Linked DNA regions of Homo sapiens. The protein of the gene in region 1 interacts with the protein of each later gene in a biochemical or structural test. Each region holds a gene or a part of one and is shown on either strand. Other genes may lie near its edges.

Region 1 (8,964 bases):
CTGTGTTTTTTTAACCACTGTGTTACAAATGAGTAAGATAAAATGGCGAGTCATTAACAGTACATGATTGTTACAAATGCCGTTATTTGAAAACTTCCAACAATATATTTGGAAAGTCATTCAGGTTTTTGTGTTTAATGTAAGAGAAAGATACATAGTCACCTGCAAGTCAAGTATAAAAAAAGAGGTAGTTACTTTTGTCTCCTTTAATTATAATTTTCTTCAAATAAGGAAGCATATAGAGTGTTCTATGACCATCCCGTCAGAGCACACCTCAGGACTGTCACCCACCTGAGCAGGTAAAGCCATCACCAGTGAAACCTTCGGAGCAGGCACAGCGGTATGAGCCCGGGGTATTTACACACTGAGCATTGATGCTACACTGGTGGGTTCCATTAGAACATTCGTCCAGATCTGCAGAACACAGCAATAAAGTTCAGAAATGAAAATGGAACATTTAAGCACCTGGAAAGATTATCGTTTGTCTTAATTTACATATAAACTGGATAAATGACAGGCATTTTAGTTTGCAGGATCACAGTTCTAATTCGCTAAGCTCTCAGACCCAATGTCCAATGTCCAGGCTATAAATGTGGGCCAAAATTATGAATTCAAGCAATTTGTGAGATATCTAGTCAACGTGAATTTTTTAACAGCTTAAAGCAAATTAGTGTTAGATCTCATTCTGACTTCTACTGAGGGTGAATTTTATTAGTGGTTTCCTTATCAGTAGAAGAATCAATTCTGAAGGTGATACTGAATTTCAGAGCAGGAAAATTAACAAAGAGTTTTTAAGTTTATTTAATAGATGAGGAAACAGAGATATGATTCTTGACCTCATGGAATCCCTTAGTTGAGCAGAAAAGACAGATGTTAAACACAGAAAAAAACTAAATCTTGCTATATGTGCCATGAAGAAAAGTTACAAGGTGCCATGAGAGAATAAAAAAGGCATCTGATTTGGGCTGCAGGAACAAAGATGCCCCCATTGAGGAAGTAGTTTTTAGTTAAGGTCAGACCTGAGGATGAGAAACAATTAACTTGCTGAACAGAGGTGGGGAAGGATATTCCTTGCAGAGGGACGAGTGCATGGTAAGACACCAAGGAGGAAAAGAGCTCAGTGTGACTGAAAAAATGAAAGGAGGTTAGAGTGGCAAAGCAGAATGCACCAGACAGAGGGTGATGGACAATGAAGCTAGAGAGACAGTGGAAACCCGCAGCCAAGGGAGGGAAGCTGAATTTTATCCCGAATTCAATGGGTTATAGTGAAGACTATGAAGAGATCGAATCCATGGTTTAAAAGCTTCCTCCTGCTGCTACGTGGAGAATGGATTGCAGGAGGGCCAGAGAGGGAACAAGCCAACATACCAGAGGGGATTCTTTTAGCATTCAGCAGACACGAAGAGCGAGGGCATGTGAGAGAGACAGAAACTCTCTCTGGTTGGGACTAGAGTAGGGGAAAGAAGATGTAAAGGAGAGGATGAATTTGGGTGACATCCTGGAGCACAGGAGGCTGGACACAGCTGAATGTCTTGTATCAGAGGCAGGCTGTTTTGCAATAGTTGGCCAAAATGACAGATGGACAAGAAGCATAAAAATGGGAGGCCAAAAAGAGAAAAAGAGTAGGCACATGGGGCTACGAAAATGGGAATGAGGGTATGGTTGAAAAGTTATGATAGTAACCCTGGAAAGATGGCTGGACTAGAGGCTGGCACTTCACTAAGCCATTGCAGGATGTTATTTAGCAGTTATTTGGAAGCTCTGATACTTCAAATTCTATAGTCAGTACATAAACTTTTGATAAGTATGAAATATTTGAATGGATAAAAAAGTATATATTCAAATTAACTTATAGTTTTGGTAAGAGATCTTAAAGCTATTCTTTAATCCTTACTGAGGGCCTATATATTTTTTGTAAGTTATCAGGGGGAAGTGAGTTTAGCTTGCTTTCTTTTCTGTTTTAAATTGACCTAGAAATTCTTACTAGTTGGAAAAATGCTTTATTGTAAGGCATGTGAAACACTAAGCATATTACACAAAACTGTGAATGACACTCAGGGTATATTCTAGTCCCTTCCCTCTCAGATATAAAAGACTTCTTAGACTCTGGCTCAAGAACCATAAAACTTGGAGAATTTGCCTATTTTTTTTCTTCAAATAAGACCTCTTGGAATGCAAGAAAGCATTTACAATTTCCTGTAAGAAGAATTCTATTTTCTAATAAGATGGTGGTATTGATGACTTACTAAAAAATTAGGTTATCTGAAAAAACCTTTTCATTGCTCTCCATTTATTCCACTGGATTTTAAATCTCACTGATTACTTCTTTGAAAAGATTGGAAGAACATACTAGTCATTTTTCATCATACAGCTGTGTTTGGATCACCAGCTGCATATCAATTTTTACTGAACAAAAACACATTAAAAAACAGGTGCCAAGGCATACTGTTGAAATTTTGATAATTTATATTAAGGGTAAAGGACACCCTTAGGCAGGAATTATCTTGCAACTAAGATAACCTTTTTATAAAGGAATTAATAAAAGTGAAGAGCATGATTCTACAACCATGCAAAAAAGAGCCTTTAAAAATTTGTGCCTTAGCAAAGGATATTTACATTTGCAAACTCACCAATACACTTGATGCCGTTTCCAATCCAGCCTTCTCTGCAGCTACACTTGAAGCTTCCTGGGATATTCAGACATGAGGCATGCATGTCGCAGTTATGAGCACCAATTTCACACTCATCCACATCTGATAAACCATAATTCATAAGAAGAAAATCAAAATACAAACTAATTAATTCTACTTCCAAGTATATTTTTGTATAGGTAACATTTTAAAGTAAAGATGCAACCGTATGGAGAAAAGAGTAGCCTAACTAACTTTTATTTTTAATTTTTGTAGGCTCCAAGAGGACTTGGAAAATTCATGATCCTAATAAAACAAGTTCTTCCCTAGAAACAACTGTCAGCCACTTTCCAGTAGAAGAGAGAGAGACACAGCAGTGTTGCTCCCCGGCAGGTATGTGTATTATCCTGGGGCCTTCTTCCCTGCCCAGATTCAGACACAACACCATAAAGAGGACATTCGATTACAGATCAAGAGAAATCTTATTTCCAATAATAGATGGTGCTATTCCTTCCTATTGATATTTATTACATATTTTTCATGAAGATAAGAATCTAACTTTTTAAAAAAAGTAATAGTTTATTCTCTTTAAAATTACATGATCATTTGTCATTTAAAAAATCAATATAAATATTTTACAGAATTTAAAAAAAACTATTCATTTAGGTGTATATTTTTATTTCTTCTACTTATTTGAGATTATAGAAAAATATTCACTGGGAATGTTATCTGGAAAGTAGCCAGATGCTTTCGCCAGTGTGTGTGTGTGCGTGTGTGTGTGTGTGTATTTGTGTGTCTGTATACACACACACATATCCCTATATATGTATGTATAACCTATGTAGATTTGGTTCTCCAAAGCTTTCTTGACTATAAATAGTAATGTGTTCTATCTAGTTCAACGATTACATATTATAGATGCTGAAATCACACACACACACACACACACACACACACACACACACTACTGGCTTCACATCAACCCTGTCAGTGGTGAACATGCAAAGAACACCTTCTTTTATAATCTGCCCCTTACTGGAGGGGTCAGCTTAAGGGCTGGGTTGGACTCTTAAGTCTTCCACCACCTGCCTTGAAAAAATATCACACATAAGTCTTAAATTGTGCACTGAGGAATACGTGATCCAAAACCTTGACCCCGGCACATCCTAGCCCCACCTGCATGCAAAAGGCTAAAACTAGTTAGTAGTAGTAGTAGAGAAAGGGAACAAAAGACAAAGTGAGCAAAGTGAGCAAAGAAGGAAAGTGAAGAGAGGAAAAAGAGAAAGGCAATTTGGGCACAGAGAAGAGAAGACAAAAGCAAACAGAAGAGCAAACAAGAAAGGAAAAGATGGGAGAAAGGAAGAAAGGGAAAGAGTCTCAATGAAACTTGATTAATTTTTACTAGTTTAAAAGAAGTGCAGAGGTAAATGGCAACCGGGATCCTCGGGTCTTTTGGTGCTCTTTGTACATGAATGTCTTCCAAGCGGGCAGCAGTCATACTCAGAAAGTGACTGATGCTGCATGAACGACCATAAGTGGTCAGGGCCATGGGAACCAGACTGTACTCCTACTCACTCACTCTGTCACAGCCCACAGCCAGCCCCACGGTGGGTGGCTCAGACAGCGTGCTACCACAGAGACCAGCCAAATCCATCACACATCCTATAGGTCACACACTCATCACACACACAGTCACAGTCTGGTGGCAGGTAACCGCTCTAAGAGATGCCAGAGAACAAATGATGTTGAAAGTTGGCCTTTGACATCTGAGAAGTTGAAATACAGAGAACACAAGCTTGAAACCTACCTGTACATCCTGTGGTCCCCTTCTTCACTGAGTAACCCAGCTGACAGTGGCAAATGAAGGATCCCTTTGTGTTCTCACATTCCCCAAACATGCAGATATTTGAATTTAGGTCACATTCATTGACATCTAGAAAATTTATTTTCAATATCTTAGTATGTGCTCATCACAGTAATTTAAAAGCTATCTTCTACACTGAATAGCATAATACTGAAATACACAGGCAAGATCTAAAATATAATCCATCCGCAAATCATCGTGTTATAGATAAATATACAACCTGCCTTTAGACATTTTTAAAAGTAATTCTTCCTGAGATTTTACAGTTCTAGTAAAATGATTTGAATTTTTAAAATAACAACAGAAAAAGCCTTCCTTTTATCACGCTTGTGTGTGCATGTGGGTGTGTGTGCATGTGTGTGTATAAATGTTTATCCTTTCTTATGATACCCACCAATGCATGTTTTCATGTCCATGGAAGCCATGAAGCCATCATAGCAGAGGCAGCGATACTCTCCAGGAATGTTGGTACACTGGCCGCCATCACAGATATCAGGATTGTTTTCACATTCATCAATGTCTGATGATACAAAATTAGCATCAAATGAAAATAAAAATGTCGTTCATCAATCTCAAATGTTTTTGTTTTCTATCTGGTTCCACTTGGTAATATCTGGAGCCATATTTTCAAGAAAAAATTAGTTAGATGTACAAAACCTGTGTGTTTTCCTTTCTATACCTGCACACGATCTCCCATCTGGCATCAGGGCATAACCCTCACTGCAGCTGCATTCGTAGCTTCCCTCTGAATTTGTGCACTGGGTGTCACAGCCTCCGTTCATTATCATACATTCATCAATATCTGTGAAAACAGCATTGCAACCACATTGTCAGGTCTGCTTCCTTAAAAGGAGTTTTCTTCTTTTTAAACAGATAATGCTAATGTGGCTTTGAATTTTTCTCCCCACTATGTGTGTTGATTGAACATTATCTTTCTTAGTTCTTTCACCTTCATTTTAGGCAGCATTCCATGTTTAAGTGCAGTACCCTAAGATTAACTCAGAAATAGAAGAACTATGGGGATTAGAGCATTTTCTACATTAAGATGAGTGAGTCTGCTGCAAGATCACACAATAACTGAGATCTGCCCCTAGTCTTACATTCATTTTTGGGACAAAGGATTTGCATAGCCTTCATTATAATTCAGCGCCAAAAGTTTTCCTAGGCTGATTTGAGACATATGAGTTTCAGGCCTGCTTGGTCTCCCCTTACCTGTACAGCCCTGGCGGTCTGGCGTAGCCTGATATCCAGGATTGCAAGAGCACTGATAGGTTCCAATCATGTTCACACATTTTCCATTTCTGCAGAGATTGTCACTCAGGGAGCATTCATTAATATCTATAAAAGATACACAGAAGTAATGCTTTACACAATGTCCACTCACTAAAGCCATCAGAAAGGTGCTTCACCAGAGCAGTGGTCTCCAAAGGGGTTTGTGTACTTCACGAGGAAGTAAAATGTTCTCCTGGGGGATTGAAAGAAAATGCTGGATTCTCTATTTCCATCTACAACAATACTGTTGAGTAAAGCTTTCTACAATGATGCAACTGCTCCCAAATCTATGCGGTCTAATACACAGCTGCATGTGCTACTGAGTACTGGAAATATGGACAGTATAACTAAGGAATATTTAATGTTATTTAATTTTAACTGAATTTACATAGCCACATATGGCTAGTGACTATCATGTTAGACCACACAGATTTCACATATGCCAGAACTGAAGCTAAATACTACTTAATATATGAACTTACACTGGCACGCTCACCTGGTCTATATTAGATGGTGAAGTGTTGCCTACATGATTTGAAGTATACTGATGGAAGACTGATGGTTCCACAAGACAGAGGCATGACAATAGGGCCCTCATGTATTTAATTGTTTACACTGTGTTATGTTTTGTGTGTCGGGATAGTAATCTACAAATCACACTGCCTGTTTAAAAATAAACTAACCCCTATAATATGGGCAGGTGCCTTAAAAATAAACTAGTACCAATAATGTAATCACAAGATAACAGAAGAAAATGGCAGGGTGATACACTTCCTTATGTAAACTACTTGTCAGGTATAAGGTAAGGTAAAAAACAGTACAGTATAATCAGATATAACAAGAAATTTATTCCAAATTCTCAAAATAACCAAGAAGATTATATGGCATGGGTTTATGCTTATGATCACTAAGTGTATATTATACAGAAATATATATTTTATATTCTGCATTGTTCCTTTGGGGGATACGTTTTTAAGCTGTAAGATCCACGAAAACTAAATAACAAAGTAAACTTAGATCTGTGACTCATTATACCTCAATATGTTCAACCATGAATAAATATTCTGCAATTATTAGTGTGAAAAAGCCTTTTGTACCGCTATTAAAATGAAATAAGAACATAAAAACCTTTTCATTTATCATTTTAAAATATCTATTTATCTATGACAAAATTCACCTCATATACTAGCAAAGCAATACATAAGGCTTATAAATAAATATATGTGTATTGGAAAGGTGTGCTCAAATTATGTTTTGAAATTTGGTGTGCAATCTGTTCTATTTTAGGCTGTCTTATTTGCTTACGGTTTTAAGAAAGAGTTCCTATGAAGAACATGCTTTCTGGCTAAAACAAAGTTTTAAAGCCAGTATACTAGGAACATAGTAAGTCCAGAGATCTTCATGTATTGTGAAAAGCAATAGGTTGCAACGCCCAAAGACCAGTCATTAGTCTTCTCATATCCTTTCTGGCAGCCCTACAGAGCTCAGGGCAAATGAGGAAACCCAGTGTTTCCATGAGAAGTGGGTTAAGGGAGCGCCATGTTCACACATGTGCAAGCCGATCGTGAGCAGGCACAGGGGCGTAGAGCGGAGTCTGCCGAGTGGATGGGAAGACGCTGGGCAAAGGTGCACAACGCACACAGTAGCTTTCCCATTTTTTCCTAATGGAGGATGAGACCACAAGGACTTCCACAGGGCTCCTCACACAGGGACCAATCACGTGGCTTGTTATAAAAAAAGAGGCCAACCAGAAGAATGCCAGCTTATTCGAGTGTGTCACCCAAGCATCCACTAAAGACACAGCCTGCATCCAGATGTAGGGAATCTCAATTTCCACCTTTTAATAAGCTAGATTTCATGTGCTCCTCAAACAACAGGTTTGTCAGAACTGATCCCTGGTCTTTACCAGTTGTGCTGGGCAGGTTTATGTGCTGAGGAGATAAACTCACCCACACAGTCCTCACGGGATGGTGACAGCTCGTGTCCCAGTGGGCAGTCACACTGAAAGCTGCCCTCAGTGTTCACACAGGTGCCACCCCTACAAAGGAGAGGGTTACGTTCACATTCGTCAATGTCTGAAAGGTAAAAACGTGAGATCCATTAAAGAACTCTGAGGGAAAAATATTCACACATACAGCGTGGGAGAAAGAATATTATCTGATGTGAGAGTGTGAGTTAGTGGAAGAGAGATGCTTCATAGGAGATGGGATAACGCTTTCCTCACTTTTCCTACGACCAACAGAAAAACTAAAATTTCTACTCTTAAAGGTAGTAAGCTTTCAAGAAATTTAATTGCATGAAATCAGCAGGCTCACAAGGGGTAGAAATACATAATATTTGCTTTATATCACCACGGACTCATGATATATTGTTGTCAGTTATCCTGGTGTCTGTAACGCTAATCAGGGTGAAGGAGAATCTTAGACTTATAACCTACTATATCCTATGAGGTAGGTCTTATATCATACTGAAAATTAAACAGTGGGCTAAAAGGTTGGGAATACCAAAAGAGTTTGTAATAGTACACAAATAAGAGCAATAACATGGGATTGGCATGACTGAATACAAATCTTGGGGCCACCACACGATGCCATGCATTTTAAAGTAGTCCCACCTAAATAAACAGTCTGTGTGATTTTAGATTCTATGAATAAACAGGATCCAATCTGAGTATCTCATTGCCATGAAGGCGCCAAGAGGTTGGGGCTCCCCGAGAGCTATCCAGGAGCGCATTTCCTGTCTGACATTTAAATCTCTTCTCTCTCTCACCACAGATGCTGGCCACACATGCCGTTCACAGCCCAGAGATAAGCAAAGGTCATGCGCACGAATGAGTCTGTGCTAGTATGGTTTCAAGCTGGCGAGGAAGAGCTCACGGTGCTTACCCATGCAGTTCTTCATCATCATGAAGCCACTTTCATAGCCTTCGAAGCACTCGCACTCAAAGCTGCCCGGTGTATTGACGCAGATTCCACTGCCACAGAGGTCAGGAGAAATCCTGCACTCGTCGATGTCTAATTCACAGGGTTTAAAAGAAATTTAAAAATTGAATGAGATAGACTTGGCCTTCCAAGCGAAGGTGCTGCATGCTTGAAAAGTTGGGGAAATTGCTGGCTAACAGTACAAGGGTATGTTTTCAGTAGACCCAGATAGAAGGGCCTGGGACCTGAGGCACATTCCTTTCCCCAACTGCCAAAA
Region 2 (7,456 bases), on another chromosome or scaffold:
GCTATTTTAAGTATTAAGTGGAATACTGTATTTGAAAGTACCTAGCACAGGACAAGATTAGCTATTATTGGGGTACAGTTTGTGAAAGGAAAATAAAATCTCAGGATCCCAAATCACTATGCCAAAAGGAAAAAAATTAAGCTAAAAGCTGAGTAATGCAAGAAACTGCCTTTGCTTTTGTTCCTAAGCAGATAGCTACAGATAAAAGGTTAAATATCTGCATAAGTAGCTACTCTATGTTCACCTTATCTTATGTAAAGTGTTGATTTACTGAGCACTAGAGGAATACATGATTGACTGTTCCCCTACCTGCTCCTTTTCTCTTGCAACATGTGGATTCAGTAATGTGACCATGCCCTCCCTCTCTCCCTTTTAAATACTGAAGCTCTCAAAATCATCTTTGGAAAAAGGCACAGACCACAGATTGTTCCTGTGATTTTGTGTTCCTTTTCTCCAGGCATGTCCTTAACCTTGGCAAAATAAACTTTTACATTGATTGGGACTTGTCTCAGATACTTTTTGGTTTACAGGTTCAATGAATGTTTAAGGAACAAATGAGACTTCCCAAACCTCAGAGATGTCATCTGCAACTTGGAAAATGCTCACCATTTTTGTCTGATCATTTGAGTGCAGATCAAAACTGAGGCCATCTGCCTAGCCCATCGGTCCTCAGTGTATTTGATTGTAATAATACATAACACAGTGCACACTGAATAGGGCTCTACCATTTACAACACCTGTTCACTCATCTACTTTCTGCATATAAAATCCCCATTTTACAGATGAGGCAACTGAGGCTCAGAGAGCACAAAGGATTTGCTCAAGATTGTACAACTAGAGTCAGCTCCTCTTCCTCCTACGAAGGCTGCCTTCAGAGTTTCACCTATTTTAGGTGAATGCCAATTGCAAAGTAGGTTTACCTGGCCAGGCTGGACTGTGGAGGTGGCCACCAGAAAATGGTTTACCTTAAAAGAGGAATTTGTAATTCCCAACATGCAGAGGAGTGAAATGAGCAAGAGGTTTGGAATTAGCATCCAACTATCTCTTGGCTATTTGTTTTTCAGGTGATTCACTTAGCAAGTTCCTTAACCTGTAAAAAGAGAGTGGCAAGAGTGTGCTGCCTGCCTCCTGGGGCTTTCTGCGATAACATAAGGGAAAGTGCTTTATAAATGTTAGTTACTACAGTCTTTACCATGAAGTTGATAAAGAGGCCCTGGGGCCTCTTCAGCCTTTCAAGACGGCTGCTGAGTCTGCTGAGCAAAGCCGGGCAGTGCAGTGCAGTGAGAGACAGCAGCCCTGTCTCCTGCAGAGTGGATGGGGGGACTCACAGGGGATTCATTTCTCAGGCACAGGAACAAGCGGGATAACGCTAATGTTTTCTTAGAGCTTCCAGATTATAACAAAGAAGATGAAGGGAGGAAAAGTCCAAACTGCCTTTTCATTTTGCTGCCTTGCCAGAAAGCACACAGAGATGGTTTTTCCACAGACAAGTCCACATTGGTATATCCTATTCGACACCAGGATTGCGGGGGTGGGGGGAGGGGGGCGGTCAGTCCCATTGTGTAGCTCCTCAGCCTTATCATGTTATCTTTCCATTTTCTGATAAATACAGAAGGCTTATAAAAAGAACCCCTCCATTAAAATTTTCCAACACAAATGAATAAGCTGTCAAAATGGTTACAGAACCAATTTCCCTTTTAATATTTTCAGGAAAGGGGAAACATAAATTCTGCAGAAGTCATTTAAAGTCATAAACCTTGAAAATGTTTGCAGTGTGTTCTGCTGATTGAAGTGTTCCAGCTGACTTAGGCCACAACACACCACAACAACACAGCCTCTGCAGTGCCAGGGAAATGGCACTTCTGAACACTTTCCAAGTGGCATGGCAAGGAAAAAGGTTCTTTTTTTCTTCATGGCATTGATTTCTTAAGTAAATCTTTTGATTCCGGAGTCAAGAACAAATGAGATCTCTGTGCTTTTTGAAGTTAGTTCTCAGCAGGGGATTTTGTTTAATACACATCAAAAGCACATTGTTCTTCGCTGGGGGCTATATCTTAGAGGTCTAGAATATGTCACATTCTGAGAACCCCCTCCTGGGTGCCCTCTCCTGGGGAGTTGGTGCTGAGTCTGGCTCTAAAGCTCATTCTCCACTCTGCTCTAGGAAGATATTTTACATTTTACAAATAGATATTTACATATAGATAATTTACAAATAGATATTTAAAAATAGATTATTTCCCTTTATTTCCCCACCAAAGATTCATGGTAGCTGGAGGGGACAGGGACCACTGGGAATGGACAAGTCAGGGTGGGACATTGTTTACCAAATCAGGATGCGAGTTTCCTGGATTGGGCGGCTGGCCCCCTGCCCTCCCGGAGGAGGAAGGAACAAAAAGGCAGCCGCAGAGGCAGGAAACTGGGGAGAATGCAGGCTGACCTGCTGAGAAGAGTGGGGGCAGCAGCAGGGGTAGAGATAACTGGAAAGTGCGTGGGAAGGAAGGGAGAGAGAAGCCCTGTGAAAAGAGGGTTAGAAAGCAAAAGAGGAAAGAAAGCTTCCAACATAGAAGAATGCAGCTCAGGGGCTCCGAGAGGCATCTTCCTGCAGAAAGAGTTGGCAGGTGAGGAGTGGCCCCTACAATCTTAACAGGTGGGGAGCTGCCAGGACCACACCTTGGTCCTCTGTATACGCTGGACCTCTTTGTCAGCTGAGAAAACATCCCCTGCCAGCACCACCATGGGGCAAAAATGCCTTGGTATTCCACACCATCCAAGGAGAGATTATGTTACTTTTTCTGCCCTTCCATTCCTATCCGTACTCCAACTCATGAATTCCAACTTAGGGAATTCCAGGGCAGCTCCATGTGCTGAAGAAAAACTCTGTCTATCTACTCTTCCTCATTCTGTGGTTTGGGCTTACGTGTCCCTTCCCCAGGGCAATCTCCCTGAGCATCCAGGCCTAGATAAGGTCCTGGGGTTGCACACTCCTTCATGTCCTGAATTCTTCCTCCATTACACTGTGACAACTATAGTTACTTATTTGTATAATTATATATTTAATGTCTGTCTTAGCTGGGTGCTCATGCCTATAATCCCAGCACTTTGGGAGGTTGAGGCAGGAGGATCGCTTGAAGCCAGGAGTTTCAGATCAGCCTGGGCAACATGGCGAAACGTTGTCTCTACAAATAGTTAAAAAATAAGCCAGGCATGGTGGTGCACACCTGTAGTCCCAGCTACTCATGAGGCTAAGGCAAGAGGATCACCTAAGCCCAGGAGTTTGAGGTTACAGTGAGCTGTGATCATGCCACTGCACTACAGCCTGGGTGACAGAGCATGACCCTGTCTCTAAAAGATAAATAAATAAAAACATGTGTCTCTTGGCCAAAGTGTAAGCCCCTGGAGCACGTTGTGTTTATCTTGGCCTTTGTTGAAAACCTATTGCCAGCACAGTACCTGGGACATAGTAACACAGAATGAACACTTGAAGATGAATGAATGAATTCTAGTGGTTCCTCTAGAAGAGTGACAAAGGAGCAGGACTTACTGCACAACTTCTTCTGGAACACGGAGGTCAGCGTCTCAATCTGGCTGAAATTGGCCACAAGGAAGACATGGTCCTCATGGGGCTCACTCCCAATGGACTTCAAGGTGTTGAAGTCTACCTGGCCCACACCAATGGCAAAGATTAGGATGCCCGTGTCCCGTGCCTTAGCAGCCACCTCGGCCACGGAGTCCTGAGGTCTCCCATCTGTCACGATCATTATGACCCGTGGCACATTCTCCCTCAGGGGCCGGGCCCCCTCTGCTTCTGAGAATGCGATGTTCAGGGCATACTGGATGGCCAGCCCAGTCATGGTGCCCGTGGACAGATGCCGCATCCTCTTGACAGCACGCTCCACCTCGGACTTCCTCTTGAAGGTCTTGAGGGAGAACTCATTCTTGACAGTGCTGCCATATTGGAGCAGGCCCACTCGGGTGACATCAGGACCAATGTCCAAGAATTGCAAGATGTCCACGATGAACTCCTTGACCTTTGCATAGTCATGGGTGTTGACACTGCGAGAGCTGTCAATGATGAAAACCAGGTCTGCCCGCTTGTTCTCACAGGAACTCTCTGGGGAAAGAGGAGAGGTCAAATACATTAGAAGAGAGGCCAGGTGTGGTGGCTCACACCTGTAATCCCAGCACTTTGGAAGGCGGGTGGATCACCTGAGGTCAGGAATTCAAGACCAGCCTGGTCAACACTGTAAAACCCTGTCTCTACTAAAAATACAAAAATTAGCCGGGTGTGGTGGCGGCACCTGTATTCCCAGCTACTCGAGAGGCTGAGGTAGGAGAATCACTTGAATCCAGCAAGCACAGGTTGCAGTGAGCCAAGAGAGTGCCATTGAACTCCAGCCTGGGCAACAAGAGTGAGACTGCATTAAAAAAATAAAAATAAGAATAAAAACATTAAAAGAGAGTTAAGGACCCAGGGCAGACTGGCTATTGTTGGAAATCCTGGGACTGATGATCACCTTTGAAACCTCCTTCATCAATTTTCCTCCCCACTCATGAAAGTTATAAGGGTATATTTGTGCATGGCTGGAAGATCATGACTACTGGCTATAATCAGATAGCAATCCTTTTTGCAAGATAAATGAATATATTAGTTTCTAGAAAGTTGCCAATGCAGTTTTTATGTAACCAAACACCTGATCAGGGTCAAAATTATTTTATTCTTTACTGCATGACACATAAGCTTGGCTGGGCACTGCAGAGAATATAACAGAAGCTTAGGACAGGGTCCAAAGTTAAGGAGCTTCTAATCTACCTGGGGAGAATTAACTAATAAAACCATGAAAGAATAACTGGCATGAAAACTGTGTCGTCCTGACAATAGCTGCTAAGAGAATAGGGATATGAATGGGCTGGGGTCAAGGAGATGGGACGTGAGCTGACCTTATAGATGCGTGGTGTTTGGATTAGAGAGAAGGAGCACATCGAGTGGATCACATGAACCAAAGCCCAAGACGGAATGAATGTGGTGGGTAACAGAATAAGTGATGAGACCTTGTAGTAGAGGGTATACTAGGAGTTGCAGGCAGGAATTAGTTGGACAGATGGCCTGAAGCCAGTTTAAAAAGACCTTTCCTTTCAGACTGAGAAATATGTACATGATGCCACCAGTGAGGGGCATCTTAGCATCATATTATGTAACTCACCTCTCCCATAGGGAAGTTACATAATGAAAAGTCAACAGAGTCTGGCAGTGGTTTGCAAGATGGATGGTATACACAATTTCTGGACTAATCTCATTGAGAGGGGGACTCAGATCTAATCCTAGGACAGTAGTGGAAATAGAGAAAAGGGGACCTGACTAAGAAATATTTCAACAAAGGACACAGTTAAATTGGAAAAAGGCAAATGTTAAGTCCCTTACCACCATGACTACCATAATTATGCCTTAAGCTGCTAAGCAAGAAGACTGTAAAGGTTTGAGTCCATAGACAAACTCATCCCTTTTGCGTTTCTAGTACGAGGGTGATATTGGATGAGATGAGAGGCCTCCAGCTTTAGTGGGTGGAGGCTGGGCATTCCTGTTGGGAGTTTCTCGGATATTCTGAGCTACTGCCTTTCACCAGGGTGAGTCCCTCCTCCCCCATTCTCTACTCCCTTCCCGGACTTTGCAGCTGAATCAGGATTTGAAAGGTATTAGAAAAGGGATCCCAAATGCTTGCCCTAAATCCTAATCACCACAGCTGCAAGAAAGAGAGAGAAAGCCAAAATGAAACAGTAAAGCTAGTCATAAAAATGAGAAGTGGGAAAGGCCCATGAAGTCATCCTGTCCAGGCCAGCTTGCCAGGCTGTGACTCGTCCCTGAGTGCCTGCACACACAACTCATCCTTGCCGCCTCACAAGTCTAATGATTTTAGGGGAGGAGGCACCCACAAATACCAGTAGCCTGGCAAGAAACCAACGTTCTGACATACCCATGCATAACCCTGAGGGCTGGGTGAGTCCAGGGTGAGTGTCTCAAAACAGAGGCCCCAGAAAGTGAGCCTTTGAGGGTTCAGCGATAAGATCTATATGAAACCTAACATTTCCAGAGCACTTTGTCACTTGGTGTGATTTGATTTTCAGAACAAGTTTTTGAGAAAGGATCAAGAAGCATCATACCCATTGCATAGATGAGAACATGGGAGCACTGAGAGTTTGAAATCTTTCATAATTTAGAAAAAGAAAAAAATATACAGAGGTGCAACCAATATCCACCTCGTTGGGCAGCTGTAAGAATTTAAGGAAATGATGTAATGAAGGATCCAGCACTTGGGAACTCCCGACGTGTGCTGGCTGCATGTACAGGCTCTCCCCACCCCTCCATCAGCCCTCACTCGTGTCCAGCCCCAGGCTGGGTAGGGGCAGGGTTACAGCTATGGCTATGTGGTTGGTGCTGCACACAGGCACCTGCTCAAGGAGGTGAGAGGAACTGAAATCCAGCCAAGCCCTGAGCCCCAGGGGCTGAGCCACCCTAAGAGGCACCTTAAGGGGGGTGCTTTTCAGCCAGGTGCAGTGGCTCACGCCTGTAATCCCAGCACTTTGGGAGGCCGAGGCGGGAGGATCACAAGGTCAGGAGATTGAGACCATCTTGGCTAACATGGTGAAGCGCCAAATCTACTAAAAATACAAAAAATTAGTCAGGCATGGTGGCACGCACCTGTAGTCCCAGCTACTTGGGAGGCTGAGGCGGGAGAATCACTTGAACCCAGGAGGCGGAGGTTGCAGTGAGCTGAGATGGCGCCACTGCACTCCAGCCCAGGTGACAGTGCAAGACTCCACCTCAGAAAAAAAAAAAAAAAAAAAAAAAAGGCAGGAGTGCTTTTCTAATTTTCATGAAGGCTCCTGTGGTTTAGCATATAGCCCTGGGTTGGGGCAGTAGATGATGGATCTGCAGATCCCAGGAAGGAGGACAAGGGGGAGCATTCCCAAGACCCAGGCAGGCCCTCTCCAAGAGCCACACCTGCCCGACCCTTCATGTCTGAACTTACTGCAGGGAGAGTGTGACCCAATAATCTTTACCTGCTGAGAAGAGGGGCCAGGCTTAGACCCTGCCATGGAGGAGGATATTAATTAAGGCACCTTTGAAGGGAGGGAAATTCACACAAGACTCGCACTCTGAGAACTCTCTTCCTTTGGAGATCTTTGGAAGTAGCAGAGCCTCCTTGGATTGGGCCTTTATTATGGGTCTTAGTCATGGTGTCAATATCTATCCAAGCATCACAATCAATTTAAAGGGAAGCCTGGAAGTTCCATGGAGAATTGTGTGCTAAACTGGATTCTCTCCCTTCAAAACAAATGGGTAGTTTCCACAACACCTGCACATGTACAAAAACGCCACAAAGGTTCAAAATGTTGTTGGAGGTTCCAAGAAAGCTGTAATTCTGAGTTGAAAACACCAAGTCCTGGCAGCCCAAGTAAC

Evidence for each region. The genes of interacting proteins can lie anywhere in the genome.
Region 2: the proteins of FBN2 (region 1) and MATN2 form a complex in vitro, tested with the Homo sapiens proteins (one study listed by BioGRID).

Annotation. Positions count from the first base shown.
Region 1 is NC_000005.10:128,330,282-128,339,245, forward strand, and holds part of FBN2 (fibrillin-2 precursor), read right to left. Parts: intron 8,781-8,964; coding exon 8,652-8,780; intron 7,842-8,651; coding exon 7,716-7,841; intron 5,833-7,715; coding exon 5,707-5,832; intron 5,297-5,706; coding exon 5,174-5,296; intron 5,015-5,173; coding exon 4,889-5,014; intron 4,564-4,888; coding exon 4,438-4,563; intron 2,754-4,437; coding exon 2,631-2,753; intron 415-2,630; coding exon 292-414; intron 1-291.
Region 2 is NC_000008.11:97,927,608-97,935,063, reverse strand, and holds part of MATN2 (matrilin-2 isoform a precursor), read right to left. Parts: intron 4,112-7,456; coding exon 3,542-4,111; intron 1-3,541.